Homo sapiens: one gene and its partner. The protein of the gene in region 1 interacts with the protein of each later gene in a biochemical or structural test. Each region holds a gene or a part of one and is shown on either strand. Other genes may lie near its edges. The genes, in order: RLIM and REXO1.

Evidence for each region.
Region 2: of the proteins of RLIM (region 1) and REXO1, one has a biochemical effect on the other in vitro, tested with the Homo sapiens proteins (one study listed by BioGRID).

What each region holds. Positions count from the first base shown.
Region 1 is NC_000023.11:74,604,229-74,611,704, reverse strand, and holds part of RLIM (E3 ubiquitin-protein ligase RLIM), read left to right. Parts: intron 1-7,476. UniProt on the Homo sapiens protein: E3 ubiquitin-protein ligase.
Region 2 is NC_000019.10:1,817,441-1,824,916, reverse strand, and holds part of REXO1 (RNA exonuclease 1 homolog), read left to right. Parts: intron 1-342; coding exon of another isoform or gene 343-380; exon of another isoform or gene 381-808; intron 809-1,131; coding exon 1,132-1,345; intron 1,346-1,659; exon of another isoform or gene 1,660-1,902; intron 1,903-2,224; exon of another isoform or gene 2,225-2,828; intron 2,829-3,234; coding exon 3,235-3,398; intron 3,399-4,521; coding exon 4,522-4,653; intron 4,654-4,736; coding exon of another isoform or gene 4,737-4,748; exon of another isoform or gene 4,749-4,859; coding exon 4,860-4,983; intron 4,984-5,785; coding exon 5,786-5,899; intron 5,900-6,073; coding exon 6,074-6,211; coding exon of another isoform or gene 6,212-6,238; intron 6,239-6,321; coding exon 6,322-6,435; intron 6,436-7,136; coding exon 7,137-7,210; intron 7,211-7,458; coding exon of another isoform or gene 7,459-7,473; exon of another isoform or gene 7,474-7,476. UniProt on the Homo sapiens protein: Seems to have no detectable effect on transcription elongation in vitro.

The DNA of each region.
Region 1 (7,476 bases):
AAATGCAATGAAAATGAAAGGTTGTAGTAAAAAGTCTGTAGGTTATGTTGCATCAGAAACTTTTGTTAATACTTAAAGGTTATCCAGCAATCCCCCCTTTTCGTCTGTTACGTTCCTGTTTCAGCTATTATGCATGTTTACACATATTTATTGTTCTATTTCACAGGCCCTGTAATTGGATGGGCTCATTGATAGATGTTAAATGGATAGCTCCTTGTATATCATTTGATAAACTTAATTTAAAATCAGAAATGATTTTAAGAAATAGCTTAATAATTAAATGATCTGGAAATACTAGGCTGGTTGGATATCTTTGAGGTTAGTGAACATGTAGTGAGCCTTAATATAGTAGTAGGTCAAATGAGGCATCTGCATTTATGGAATTATATTATATGTACATTAATTTTTCCATGGCCATGGTGGATTAGAAATAGAGCAAATCACCAGCCAGCCTCCTGTTCTCTTCATTTACCATAGAGTGGATGACAAATTAGAGAATAAAAAGTCTTCTGTCAAACCCAAACCAATGAGGGCCTAGAATTTTGTGCCACTGCCTAGAACTGGACAGGTTTTTCTTTAACACAAAGATTTCTAAAACCTATGGCCCATTGATTTCAGAAAGTATCTAGTTTACATAATAAATTGAAGTTCTGATGTCCAATATAAGAAAGTAATAACACTTCTGTATCTATTTTTCTTTCATTTTTTTTTCTCAGCCTCAAACATGAAAGTTTCCCAGATAATCCAGCAATTCATTTCTCTTTTTATCAATTGAGGTATTTTTATTTATTTATTTTTTATTTTTTTATTTTTTTGAGACGGAGTCTCACTCTGTCGCCCAGGCTGGAATGCAGTGGTGCACTCTCGGCTCACTGCAACCTCCACCTCCTGGTTTCAAGCAATTCTCTTACCTCAGCCTCCCAAGTAGCTGGGAGTACAGGCGCTCTCCACCACGCCTGGCTAATTTTTGTATTTTTAGTAAAGATGGGGTTTCACCATATTGGCCAGGCTGGTCTCGAACTCCTGACCTTGTGATCTGCCCACCTTGGCCTCCCAAAGTGCTGGGATTACAGACGTGAGCCACCGCGACTGGCCAATTGAGGTATTTTTTAAATATACCTCAATTGGGGGAATATATTTATGAACTTGTGGTTTTTCTCCTGACATATATAGTTGGTATTTTTGCTCTAGATTTTCTTATATTTTAATGTTCCAACACAAGGGTTTTTTTTTTTTGGTTTTTTTTGTTTGTTTGTTTGTTTGTTTGTTTGTTTTTTGGTTAGGAGGGCAGGACGAGTTTTGCTCTGTCGCCCAGGCTGGAGTGCGGTGGCACGATCTTGGCTCACTGCAACCTCCGCCTCCTGGGTTCAAGCGGTTCTCCTGCCTCAGCCTCCCGAGTAGCTGGGATTACAGGCACGTGCCACCACGCCTGGCTAACTTTTGTATTTTTACTAGAGATGGAGTTTCACCATGTTGGCCAAGCTGGTCTTGAACCCCTGACCTCAGGTGATCCGCCCGCCTTGGCCTCCCAAAGTACAGGGATTACAGGCCTGAGCCACCGCGCCTGGCCACCAATCCAAGAGTTTAATTTCATTAGTCACAGTAGCACCTACATATCTGTGAGACAAATAATCTGTAGGCAGAGAGCACTTGGTGCATTACATAGATTGGTGGATTTCTTGCAATAATTTTGCAACTACAGGTTGGTTTGCTTTTATAACATTTGAGAGTCTAATGGCGTTTCCATGATGATGAACATGTTACTTCCTGGGAGAAAGGAAGTATTTGTGTTTGATGTTTAAAATTTTTTTCTGGAATGACAAAAGGTCCCTTCTGATCTCCCCTTGACTATAGGAGGAAAAGTGTTAACTACAACTTTTGTTTTTTATTGACCAATGATCCCTTTAGTGCTGATTATAACTAAGGAGACCATATGAATTATCTAAACTGGGACACTTTTGAGAGTGAAAGGGAGAGCCATATTACTGATTACTTCAGTACAAGTGTAAACCCTTACTCTTCTGGACAAACCAAAGATATATTGTCACCCTCTTCATGTTATTTTTATGTAGGTATACTAGTTCAGGAAGGACAATTGTCAGCATGGTTGGTCTTAAATACAAAATTACTTCCTCAAATAACTGATTGGTATAGATAATACTTTCTTTTTTAGTTAAGTGATTTTAATTTTTTTTTTTTTTTTTTTTTTTTTTTTTTGAAACGGAGTCTCGCTCTGTCGCCCAGGCTGGAGTGCAGTGGCGCGATCTCGGCTCACTGCAAGCTCTGCCTCCCGGGTTCACGCCATTCTCCTGCTTCAGCCTCCCGAGTAGCTGGGACTACAGGCGCCCACCACTACGCCTGGCTAATTTTTTTCTATTTTTAGTAGAGACGGGGTTTCACTGTGTTAGCCAGGATGGTCTTGATCTCTTGACCTTGTGATCTGCCCGTCTCGGCCTCCCAAAGTGCTGGGATTACAGGCGTGAGCCACCGCACCCGGCTAAGTGATTTTAATTTTAAAAATTGGCTTCAATCTTTAAAAACCTGATTTTTGATGGAAAAATCTTAGGTCCTTAAAATAGTGCCTTAGTTACTGATGAACACCAACATTGTCAGTTATCAGTGATTTTTACCTTAGTAACTTAAACACATGCACTCCTTGGGTTTTTGAGTCATTTTCTTTTTGACTTCTTAGGAATAATGAGAGAAGCAAGTCAAAACGAGTTTATGGATAAGACCAAATTATAATTTAGTGGCATAGCTTGATAATAAAAGAACATAAAACGGGTAATTGAAGATTAAATTCACTGTCTAGATTAAAGTATTTGACTGAGATGAAATGTCATAATGGTTTCCTTTTTTAACTAACTTGATCCTGTAGATCAACCGCATTTGGCATGGTCTTCAGTCCTTTGATTTACTGAAGTTCTTAACACTCTTTCAGTTTTAACTGTTTTAGAGCGTTTTAGTAAAAGTTGTTTGAGCTGCAAGTCGGTGCGTACATGAGGAACATTCCTGAGTCCTTTTAGTTTTTCTCTGCTGTCCTTTTCAACTGGTAAAGATAGAAGAATGTAAGTGGAGGCTAAGCTAACTGCCATTCAGATATTTTATAATCTCTTATTGTTATGGTAGCATGAGCAGTGGGGGATACCTTGGTAGCATTTTCTGATAGGCCACTCTTGGAAATTATCAACAAATTTTTTAGTTGGTGAGAGGTATCATGCAATAAGGAAAGTCAGTGAGACATTAACCCTGCCTGTTCTTTTTTTTTTTTTTTTTTAGGAATGCTTTATATTTCTTTTCAAAAAGATAACTGCGTGAGTGGAGATAGAAGTACATTGAGTGAAATGGTAGTGAGAAAAGCAGAGCTTATAAGCTTATGTCCTAGTTATTTGTGCTGTTTCCTAAACTTAATATTTCTTAATATCGTAATGTGGTGTAGGTTATATCTTATTTACAGTTACAGATTCATAGAACTGGAAAGTACCTTGCAGATGGTTTAATCCAATACTCTAATATTGATGGAGACTTCTCTGGCACAAGAGGTTAAATGAATTGGCCAAATCCACATAACCAAGTTACAACCAAGACTGGATTTCAGTATCTCTTTTTTCCTTTCACAGAGCTGAGTTTCACCCTGCTACCCATGTGTAGAATAAAAAAAGATACCTGGTTGTTAGCAAATATTTTTCTGTTACAAATACCATAACATTTTAATTAAACATTCTATATATGAAGAATCCCCAACACTTTTGGTGCCTACATACGTAATGATATGATGGTACTTTTTGTTTTCTGGCCTTAAATTCAGCAGTTCTTTGTGATTTAACTTTTAAAAAACTGAATAAAGTATTTTTCATTTTGGTGATGGTATTTAACATTTTCTTCATTGACACAGATCACATGTCACTAGTTCTTAAAGGACTCCTTTATGAAGTTCTTTTTTGTTTTTTTTGTGTGTGTGTGTTTTTGGTGTGTGGTTTTTTGTTTGTTTGTTTTGAGACGGAGTCTCGCTCTGTCACCCAGGCTGGAGTGCAATGGCACGATCTCTGCTCACTGCAACCTCCACCTCCCAGGTTCAAGCAATTCTCCCACCTCAGCCTCCTGAGTAGCTGGGATTACAGGCACCTGCCATCATGCCTGGCAAATTTTTGTATTTTTGTAGAGACAGGGTTTCACCATGTTGGCCAGACTGCTCTTGAACTCCTGACCTCAGGTGATCCGCCCGCGTCGGCCTCCCGAAGTGTTGGGATTACAGGCATGAGCCACTGTACTCAGCCTCCTTTATGAGATTCTTGATGAAGCTCTGTTGCAAACAAAATGGATTGCCCTTCTCTTGTCAGTGTGACACATTTTTGTGTTCATACCCATAATTTTTTAAAAATTGGCATGTCCTGCTTTAGAACTTTATTATAGAATTTGGAGCTTGAATGAACACATATGCACAAGGTGAAATATTCAACATGATTTAGTAGTTAGTTGATGTTACGTTACCTTAATTCCTCCCTCCCACCCACCCCACTTTTTTTAAAAAACGAGGTAATTTCTTCCATATGACTTTTTAAATTTTGATATGGAGTCTCTGTCACCCAGACTAGACTGCTGTGACGTGATCTGAGTTCACTGCAACCTCTGCCCCCAAACTCAAGTGATCCTCCCACCTCAGCCACATCAGCTCCCAAGTAGCTAGGACCACAGATGCGCGTTACCATGCCCAGCTAAGTTTTTGTGTCTTTGGTAGAAACGGTTTCACCATGTTGCCCAGGCTGGTTTTGAACTCCCGGGCTCAAGCGATCCGCCGACCTCGACCTCCCAAAGTGCTAGGATTACAGATGTCGGCCACCACACTCGGCCAGCACCATGCCCAGCCAAGATGACTCACTTTTTAAAATTGGTTTTTACACAGGCATTTCACTTGGTGTTTCAGAATTTAGTTTTGTAAGGTCTGTTTTATTAACAGTATTTTTGGATGCCTTAAGTCTCCTTAATTGGGTACTATAATGTAGTGTGTCCATCAAATATAACATGCCTGTGTTTATACTTAGCACCAGGTCTCCTGACCTGTTAGTACTGAACAATATGTTTTAAATAACTTTTTGCCTTAACATTATAACAATTAAATTTTTTAAAAGTTTGGTGTGCATGGATTAGAAGAATTAAATGAGATACTACATTTAGCAGTAATCAGAAACAGTCATTTGCATAATTTATATTAATATATAATAATGACTAGAAGAAGTTGAGATTATTAACAATACTTTAAAATTCTCAAAGTGAATAAAATCTGTTTTAAATAAATCTCAGGGTTGGTGTTCTTGCTGGCCTTTCCTCCCCAGAATTAAACTTACTGGATACAGTCCCATTCATTGACCAGATGAGTAGCTCTTTGAAACGATTGGGCAAAATTTCTCATTTGGTTTCTTGTTTCCAGGAATGGATTTGGATATATTGGCACACAGTACTCTAAAAGAAATAAGGTTAATAAAATATGCTGTTTATCTAAGGAGCAACTGTATTTTTAAAAATTACTAAAAGTTGACTTATTTAAAAATAAGTCCATCTAGGTTTGTGCTGCTTACAAAAGGTGTTTTGTCATTTTGGAATTTTTCATACAGGGAGTGAACATGGTATAAAAAGCTCATAGATTGAATAGTTTAGTCATACCTATTGGGATTGAAGGAAGGAATGTGTTTTAAAGTATAGAGTCTTGGGATATGTTGGGAGGCAGTTGTCTTAGTGAAAAGTTGACTGGATTTGGAATGCAGAGACCTGGATTTAATTACTGGCCCTTTCCCACTTACTAGTCACATGGTTTTTGGTAAATCACTTTCTTTCTCTGTGCTTCTGTTTGTCACCTGTAGAGGTGGTGATTCCTAATTCATGGGATTATTGTGAAGATTAAATGAAATACAGGTGTAAGGGCTATGTAAATACAGGGTGATGAGTATTGCTTATAGCCAGAGAGAGACCTAAGTGACTTCAAAACAGTTATATTTCATTGTTTAAATTACTGTATGTTTCACGGGTAATCTTTTCATAGAAAAACAGCTGATGCTAATCATATGCTGAAGTCAGAATTTCTGACTTATCTGAGATAACTAAAGAAATGGATTTATGACCTTCTCTTTTACGATGATGTTGAAAGATCCCAGCGGTGTATAAGGATTCTCTTTTTCCTCTTGCTACTTAAGCTAGAAATGTACCACAATGTTACTCACTGCAAAGTAGAATCTGGAGACCTGTTTTGTTAATGTTATTCTTCACTAATATTTTCACACCCAAAATGGAGATAGAGCTGTATTTGATCATTTGGAGTATGGTTTTCTGGTATTTTTGGCATGCCTAAACTTTAAAATGTTTGTTTGCACTTAGTAAACAATAGTGGCAGATTATATCTACCTGGGGCAGAACTTGTGGTTTTTAGATTTATTCCATTTCTTTCTTTTATGCCGCTTAGATAGTGAAGGTCTGCTTAAAATAAGACCAGGCTCATTGGGTGTGTGAGAGTAAAATTAGTTTACAAGGCATTTGAGAGCATTGCCTTGATTTCCATTTTCTTTGCAAATGTAATTATGTCTAGTCCAGGGGACCTCTGCAGGTATTGTAGCCATAGCTTACTCTTTGAATTCCCTTATAAGGGAGGGAGTGCCTTGCCAGTGCTGAAATCTCTTGACCCCCAATTCCAGCCCAGGGGAAATGCTAAGTTAAGGCAGAAAGGATGGAGGCTTTGAAATAAGTGTGTTGCAGGAGTATCATGGGGAAAATATTTTCCTTGATTGTCTCTGGCATATATATGGAAGGGTAGCAGGAAAGGAGACAGCAGCATATTATTATTATTGAAGAGGTAGTGATTTGGATTTGTTCACATGTTGCTTTATGAGTGTGTCTCATTAAAATTTTGAATTAAATAAAATTTAGAATTCCCTCTTTCATGGAACGGAATCCAAGCTCATCAAGCAGGAGCTGTTTAGGATTCAAAAATCTCTGAAATCAGTGTCAGGAAAATTTTGAATGGAGGTAAAATGTTTTGTCTCTAGTTTCTATGTAGGAAATGGTAGAAATTCTAAAAGGTCAAGAATGAATCTTGAAGATTCATGAGCATAGGAAAGACTTATCTATCCCATGAGTATTGAACATTGTAGAGTATTGAACCTTATTGTTTTATTTTTGGAAAACATAAAGGGGATGCAAATAGTGGGTTTGTAGAGCATGAAAAATATATTGGGGACATTTGAAACTCTCCCTATTTGGGATTTCTCTATCTTACAAAGAAATACTTTAAAGCTGTGCTGCCCAATATGGTAGCCATTAACCACTATGTGACTGTTAGACACTTGAAATAAGACTAGTGAAACTGAAATTTTAAGTTTTTTTTTTATTTTAAGCTTAAAAAACTGAAGTAGTGTAAAATGTTTTTCCACTAAACACAACTGTATTGTTTTGCTGAACTACATTCCATTTTATCTGTCGAAAATTTAG
Region 2 (7,476 bases), on another chromosome or scaffold:
CTACTCGGGAGGCTGAGGCAGGAGAATTGCTTGAACCCGGGAGGTGGAGGATTCAATGAGCCAAGATCGTGCCATTGCGCTCCAGCCTGGGCGACAAGGCAAGACTCTGTCTCAAAAAGATAAATACATAAAATGAGTTATCCATTCATAAACTTCTGATTTCTTTGGGACATTGTTCCTGTAAATCTGTGACGCTTTTTGTAAAGCATCAGTGATTTCCCCATTCGTTCTTCCACCCAAGTTTTACCATAAATTTGATGCTTAACATTTGCTTCAATTTTAGCAGAACTCCTGTTGCTCTGACTGGGGCTCTGTTCTAACTGATGTCTTACTTTTTTTTAGTGCCTCAAACTCCGTCTGGTTCAGACATGTTATGACAAGTTAGTATCAGTTTATTTTGGGGCAAAAAAACTTGAAAGCCATGCAAGTTTCGTCACAACGCACGTTTTCCATGAGCTTTTTGAAGACACCTTATCTTTGACGCTGCCCGAGTTCCAGAGGGAGCTGGCCCTGCCCCTTCCTGTTAGATTGCCACGGTGCTGGGGCGAGGGACAGAGCAGGTCAGCAGCCCCAGGGTGACCTCCCCCAGAGTGCGGCAGACGGCCTGCTGCGCCGTGTGCGGCCTGGGCCTGGGCCGGTTGTCCAGCTCTGAGCTCCAGTGTCCTCTGTAGCCCGGAGACAGTAGCGCTTGTCAGGCCCCTGTGCAGACGTGGCGAGGTAGTGCAGGACAAGCAGAGAGCCTGGCTCCGGGGTCAGCAGCCAGGAGAGTCCCAGTTGCTCCAGTCCCAGAGCCTCCCCAGAGGAGGGGCTTTGAGGAAGATTAGGCGTAGTGGGATTGGATTGGAGTGCCAGTGTAATCGGGGTAGTCCCGCCCACCCGTGCCTTATCAGGGCTGAGGACATAGCCTGGGCACCGGGAGACACTGGGAGTGGGGGAGCCTGGAGCCACATGGCATTGAGGACCACTGCCCCCTGCTGCTTCCCCCCAGTGTGCCCAGCAGCTCAGAAGGCAGCCAGGGAGGTGGTGCCTCCGGCCCCCGAGCTCCAGCCACCCTCTCCCAAGCCTGCCCGGGGTCGCCTGCTCCAGGTGCCCCCGCTGTGCTGCCAGGCCTTAGCATTTGTGGTGACGCAGGTGGAGCCCCCGAGGAGGGGTCCCGCGGTGCCCCCGGCCCGGCCCCCGACGGCGCAGGAGGTGTGCTACCTGCGGGCCCAGCAGGCGCAGAGGGCATCGGCGAGCTTGCTGCAGGCCCCCGCCAGGCTGGCAGAGAAGTCGCCCTCCGTCCACATTTCCGCCCCTGGCGAGAAGAGGAGGATCGCCCACATCCCCAACCCCCGCCTGGCTGCAGGTGAGTCCTGGCCCAGGGGGCCTGTGCCGGGGGGCCGTGGGCATGTGGGCAGGAGAGGTGGCACCCTGAGGTCTCTGAGCTCACCTGAACCACATGGTGCTTGCTCATGGGATGACTTTGGGCCCCCTCCCTGGGGCCCTCAGCCTGCCTGTCTGTGAAATGGGGACTGTTGAGGGGTGCAGGAGGCCTGGCCCAGCACCTTCCTTCCCTGACCCAGCTCCGGGGTTACTAGGAGTCCAACAGCCTGCTGGGGACTGGGCTGAACCAGGGCCTGAGCCTGTGGTTCCAGGGAATGGGGAGCCATGTCGGGGTACCTGGCATTGGGTGGGGAGCAGGCTTCTGCAGGTGTGGCTTTCTCCTGGCGTGTGAGTGGGGGGCGTGGCCTCTGATGGAAATGAGTGCTGTCTTCCCAGGAGTGGGGCTGTATTTCCTTTACTCCGAGGGGCACTTCCCCCCCAGCAGGGTCTTGTAGAAAGTCGGGCCAGGCCTCAGTGGTGGGTGGACAGGACCCTTCACGGGGGGTTGTCCTGTCTCCTGCGTCTTCACATCAGTGGTGTCTGTAGAGCGAGAAAGTATCCCTGGAGGCAGGTCACAGATGAGGGTCCCCCAGAAAGCTCCTAAAAAATGCAGGTTCTGGTCTGGAGGCTGGGAAAGGTCTGTGTGTCTGGCAAGCTCCCTGGGAGGGCATGGCTGCTGTCCGAGGACCACCCTGAGCAGCCTGCTGGTTTGGAGCCCCTGCCTCCCTGGCGCTGGCTGGAGAGCCTTAGGGCCAGCCCCGGCGATTCCCCTGCAGATCCCATGGATCCCACGGCCCTCCTTAGGGAGAGCTCTCCAGGCTACTCTGACCTCCCCTCCCCAGAGCCCCCTCACGGCTGAGACCTTAGCCCCAGGGAGGGGAAATCATTGAGTTGGGCCTATCCCAGGACCCCACACGCTTCCCGTCTGTGTCTCCGCGCTCGGGTTGTCCTGTTGCTGATCTGTGGTGGGTGCTGAGCTGTCGCAGTGCCCTTGGGGCCCGCCGCCTGAAGGGAGTCTGGCGTCCCAAGTGCTGGCAGTGCCGCAGGGCGGGCTCATCTGGCTTGGAGGACTCCTGTGGCTGCCTGGGCTCGCCCCCAGCGTGCAGCCGAGGGAGTCTGGAGGTTCTCTGTCCGTTCCTGAAGAGCAAACCCTCCACTGCAAGAGGCGCGTGCCAGCCTGGCGGGCAGCCTGCTTCCTTGCTGGGCGGCCCGCGGTAGCATGAGCAGACTCATCCTGCCTCCCTTGCACCTTCCAGGGCCAGATGGCATTTCGAGGGATGTTGCTCTGAGACTAGGGCCAGATGTCCCTGCTCACAGCTCCCCTTCCTGGGTCGGTGCCGAGCCCCCAGTCCAGAAGCCCCCCTGCCACACAGACGTACATGCCCAGGTTGCAGCTGCCCGCGTGGCCAGCCCTCCGAAGCAGCCCCTGCAGGCCTGGCCTCCTCCCTCTGGTTTGTGACTTCATCAAAGGGCAAGGCAGAACACAGAGGCCGCAGGGCAGGGCAAAGCCAATGAGCAGGTGGGGGCACCCGAGACCCTTCGGTCCTCTGTCCGGGAGCCAGGGCCTTTCCCTCAGACATCGACGCCTTGGGCTTGGGGTCAGAACACGTGGCAGAGGCCTGGACCACCCCACCGGTGACGTGTCCTCAGCGGCCTCCGCAGCCTGACCTGTGTCCTCTGCCTCGATGGACTTGCCTGAAGGCAGCTAGAGCCTGATGCCATTGCGCAGCCCCAGCCCCTCACCCTGGCCCGGCCCCCTGCACGCGGAGATGCACGTGCTGCTGGCGCTGAGCGGCCGCGGCTGCCTGGTGCTCCGCCACGTGGTGATGGGCAGCCACTCGCCCTGTGCCCACACCCCCTGTGCCCCGCCAGCCCCCACAGGTGCCAAGAGGACCCTTGCGGCCAGCGGCAGCCAGTCCTCCAACGGCCCTGAGCCAGGTGGCCAGCAGCTGAAAACACGCACATTGTCGGGGATGGCGTCCAAGACTACCACCACCATCATCCCTAAGCGAATCGCCCACAGTCCATCCTTACAGGTAGCCCCTCCCATCTCGGCCAGGACCACCACCCCCAAGACCACGCCCTGAGGCCCGGCCACATGGGACCTGCGGAGGGCCAGCCTCGCCCCTGCCCTGCGGGCCTTCGTGCTCCACACCGCAGTACAGCCTTCACCTTCCCTCCCCATGCCTTGGTGTTTTTTTTTTTTTTTTGAGATGGAGTCTCGCTCTGTCGCCCAGGCTGGAGTGCAGTGGCACGATCTTGGCTCACTGCAAGCTCTGCTTCCTGGGTTCACGCCATTCTCTGGCCTCAGCCTCCTGAGTAGCTGGGACTACAGGCGCCCGCCACCACGCCTGGCTGTTTTTGTATTTTTAGTAGAAACGGGGTTTCACCATGTTAGCCAGGATGGTCTCGATCTTCTGACCTCGTGATCCACCCGCCTCGGCCTCCCAAAGTGCTGGGATTACAGGCGTGAGCCACCATGCCCGACCGCCCTGGCGGTGTTTTTTTGTTTTGTCTTGTTTTGTTTTTTTGGTTGGTTGGTGTTTTTTTTTTTTGTTTAGAGACAGGGTCTCTGTTGCCCAGGCTAGAGTGCAGGGGCGCAATCATGGCTCACTGCAACCTCGACCTCCTGGGCTCAAGTGATCCTTCCACCTCAGCCTCCTGAGTAGCTGGGACCACAAGCCGGTGTCATCACACCCCAGCTAATAATTTTGTTTTTTATTTTGTAGAGACAGGGTTTTGCCACGTTGTCCAGGCTGATCTTGAACTCTTGTCCTCAAGTGATCCTCCTGCCTCAGCCTCCCAAAGTGCTGGGATTATAGGCGTGAGCCACCACGCTTGGCCTTGTTTTGTTTTTAATTAATAGACTTTATGTTTTTTGAGCAACTTTAGGTTTCTAGGAAAATTGAGCAGAAAGTACAGCAAGTTCCCTTGTGCCCCCATGGCCTCAGTTTCCCATGACCTTAGTTCCGCTGCCCTCAGTTTCCCCTGCTGCTCCTGTCTTGCCTTGGCGTGTCTGTCCCTACTGCAGCCAGGCTGATCTGTCCCAGCGCACCTCACTCTTGCCTCCAGCCATGGGCACGGCCTCATCGCGTCTGCGTTCCCCGCTGGAGGCCTTGTGGAGGCCCTCACCCATGGCAGCTTTTGCCTTCCCTCTAGAGTTTAAAGAAACCCATTATCCCCAAAGAGTTTGGGGGCAAAGTCCCCACCGTCATCCGCCAGCGCTATCTCAACCTGTTCATCGAGGAGTGTCTCAAGTTCTGTACCTCCAACCAGGAGGCCATAGAGAAGGTGAGGTCCTGGAGTTCCTATCTGGCCGGTCGGGTGGGGACTAGGGGTCCAGGGTGGTCCCCAGACATCCCCCGGCCTCTCAGCCGCAGCTGTGACCCGGAGCTGCCTGGGAGAGATGCAAGTCCCCGACCCCATGGCGACCCCACCGCTGGGGCTCCCCGGCACCAGGCAGGCATGGCCTCAGCTGGGCACCGCCTGTCCCCCAGGCACTGAACGAGGAGAAGGTGGCCTATGACCGCAGCCCCAGCAAGAACATCTACCTGAATGTGGCCGTGAACACCCTCAAGAAGCTCAGGGGCCTGGCCCCCAGCGCTGTGCCCGGCCTCAGCAGTGAGTCCTGGCGGGTGGGCGGGGGAGGCTCAGGGTTGCTCTTGGGGTGGCAGCTGGGCTGGGACCCTCGCTGGGACCTTCACAGCCCTGAGCTCAGCCACAGTCTCAGACAAAAGGAAAGCGCGGTGCTGTGGGGGGGCTGCCTGCTGCCTGGTTCCCAGGCTTCTGTGTAGGACGGACCTGGCCCTGGTGTCCTCGCTGTCAGCCGCCTTCCTCCGCTGAGTGGGGTCTCCAAGCCGAGCCGAGGGGCCGCCTGCTAATGGAGCTGCGGCAGCTTCTTCAAAGCAGGAGGCCCAGGGCTGGGCGAGCTCCATGCATTAAGCTCTGGGGAGGAAGAAAGCGGAGACCTGGGCGTTTCATTGCAGCCTCTCCAGGCTGCATTAAGCTATCACCGGCCCCTGCCCCCGTCCCCGCCTGCATTAGCACTCGGAGGGGCCCTGGGTTGGCGTCGCAGGCTGGGTGGCCCATGAAGGCTCAAAGCCCTCGAAAGCCATTAGATCCCCCGTGCTGTTCTCCCCGCCCTTCCCCCTTCGCTTGAGGGGAGGGGACGAAGACTTTGGGTGTGGGGCCTCCGTGCAGCTCTGGGGCCTGCAGAGCTGGCGGCTGCCCTGCGTCCCTGGCTCACCGCATGTCTGCCTCTCCTGTTCGGGTCAGGCTGGAACCCGGGGTCAGTGGGGTGCTGTCCCAGAAAGGGGGAGTTGAGGCAGAGGTCTGAGGAGGGCAGGGTGGGTGGGAGAGCAGGCGGGGCAGGGGTCTGAGCCAGCTACTTCACACCCTCCTCCCCTCCCTCCCTTCCTTCCAGAAACCAGTGGCCGCAGGGTTGTGTCCCACGAGGTGGTGTTGGGGGGCAGGTTGGCCGCCAAGACCAGCTTCTCGCTCAGCCGTCCAAGCAGCCCCCGGGTGGAGGACCTGAAAGGTAAGGCCCTGCCCCTGCTCTGCCACACGGTGCTTCGTGGGCCTCTGCCGGCCCAGCCCCTGCTGTGCCACACGGTGCTTCGTGGGCCCCTGCCGGCCCAGCCGCCTTTCCCGGTGGTGTCTACCGCCCCGTGGGCCATCCCAGGCAGGGGCTGACCACTGTGCCTGTCCACAGGGGCTGCCCTGTACAGCCGCCTCAGGGAGTACCTGCTCACCCAGGACCAGCTCAAGGAGAACGGCTACCCCTTCCCGCACCCAGAGCGGCCCGGGGGCGCAATCATCTTCACAGCTGAGGAGAAGAGGCCCAAGGACTGTGAGTCGCTGGCCTGCGACGGCCTAGGTGGGCAGGTGCGGGATGTGGGCAAGGCCGGGCATGCGGGCCCCAGCGTGAGCCTCAGCTTCCACCTGGGTCCCCACCCACAGCTTCCTGCAGGACCTGCTGCCGCTGTGGCACCGAGTACCTCGTGTCCTCTTCAGGCCGCTGCATCCGGGACGAGGAGTGTTATTACCACTGGGGACGGCTGCGCCGGAACCGGGGTAAGGCCTTACCCGGGTCCTTCCCCTTCCCACCCATGGCCCCCGGAACCTGGGCCCTCCCTTGAGGCCCCCAGAACTGGGGTAAGGCTTTACCCAGGCCCTCCATCCCACTCAGGGTCCCTGGGCTGCACCGTCTTTGGCAGAGCCGGGGCTAGCCCTTGGCCTCATTTTCTCTCCACCTGTTCTTTATGCAAAAGTAAGACAAGAGCTTTCCCATGACAAGGTTCAAATGCCACCACCTGAAAGGCCCTGTGTCCCTGCCTTCCTGTGCCCTTGGTCCATGGAAATGTGGAGGTTGCTGGCCCCAGGAGCGGAGGGGCTTGTCCCACCCTTGGCCTGGTGGTTCTATTCAATCCCCCAGGCAACCACGCAGCCACGCTCAGGGCACATGGCCAGCCTTGCACAGCCCTGTGGCGGCCCCTAAAGCCATCGCCTCAGGGATACCTGGAGGGTGCTGCCCGGGGCAGCGCTGCCAAGAGGCCTCTGCAGAGGGCACTGGTCTCCCTGGATCCAGGCCTGGGCGTCCTGGCTGCCACACGACTGCCGGGGCCTGGTCTGCTTCCAGCTCCACCAAGAGGCTGAGGCCTCCTGTCCTCAGTCCTCACTCCCTAGTAGGGCTCGGTAGATGCAGGTGGTCAGTGCCCCGGGGGCTGTGGAGTGGGCCTGGCCGGGCCCTGACTGTGTGTCTGTGTCCCCTGCAGTGGCCGGAGGCTGGGAGACCCAGTACATGTGCTGCTCGGCTGCCGCCGGCTCTGTCGGCTGCCAAGTCGCAAAGGTGAGCCCTGGCGTCCCAGTCCCCTCTGCCTGTTCTCAACAGACTTCTGCCTCCCCATCGTTGGTGTGGGGTCTCGGGACACAGCACAGTCCTGGGCTCAGGGTCTGGGCCCCCGGGCAGCCTTTCTTGTGTTACCCAGAGAACGTAGCACCCGTAGGCCCCAGGCCCTGTCCCTGGCCACTTCCCATCCTGGGAAGCCGTCCTCCCTGTGTCTTCTTGGCAAGCCCCCTTCCCCACCTGCTCACCAGGGTCCCAACCAGTGAATG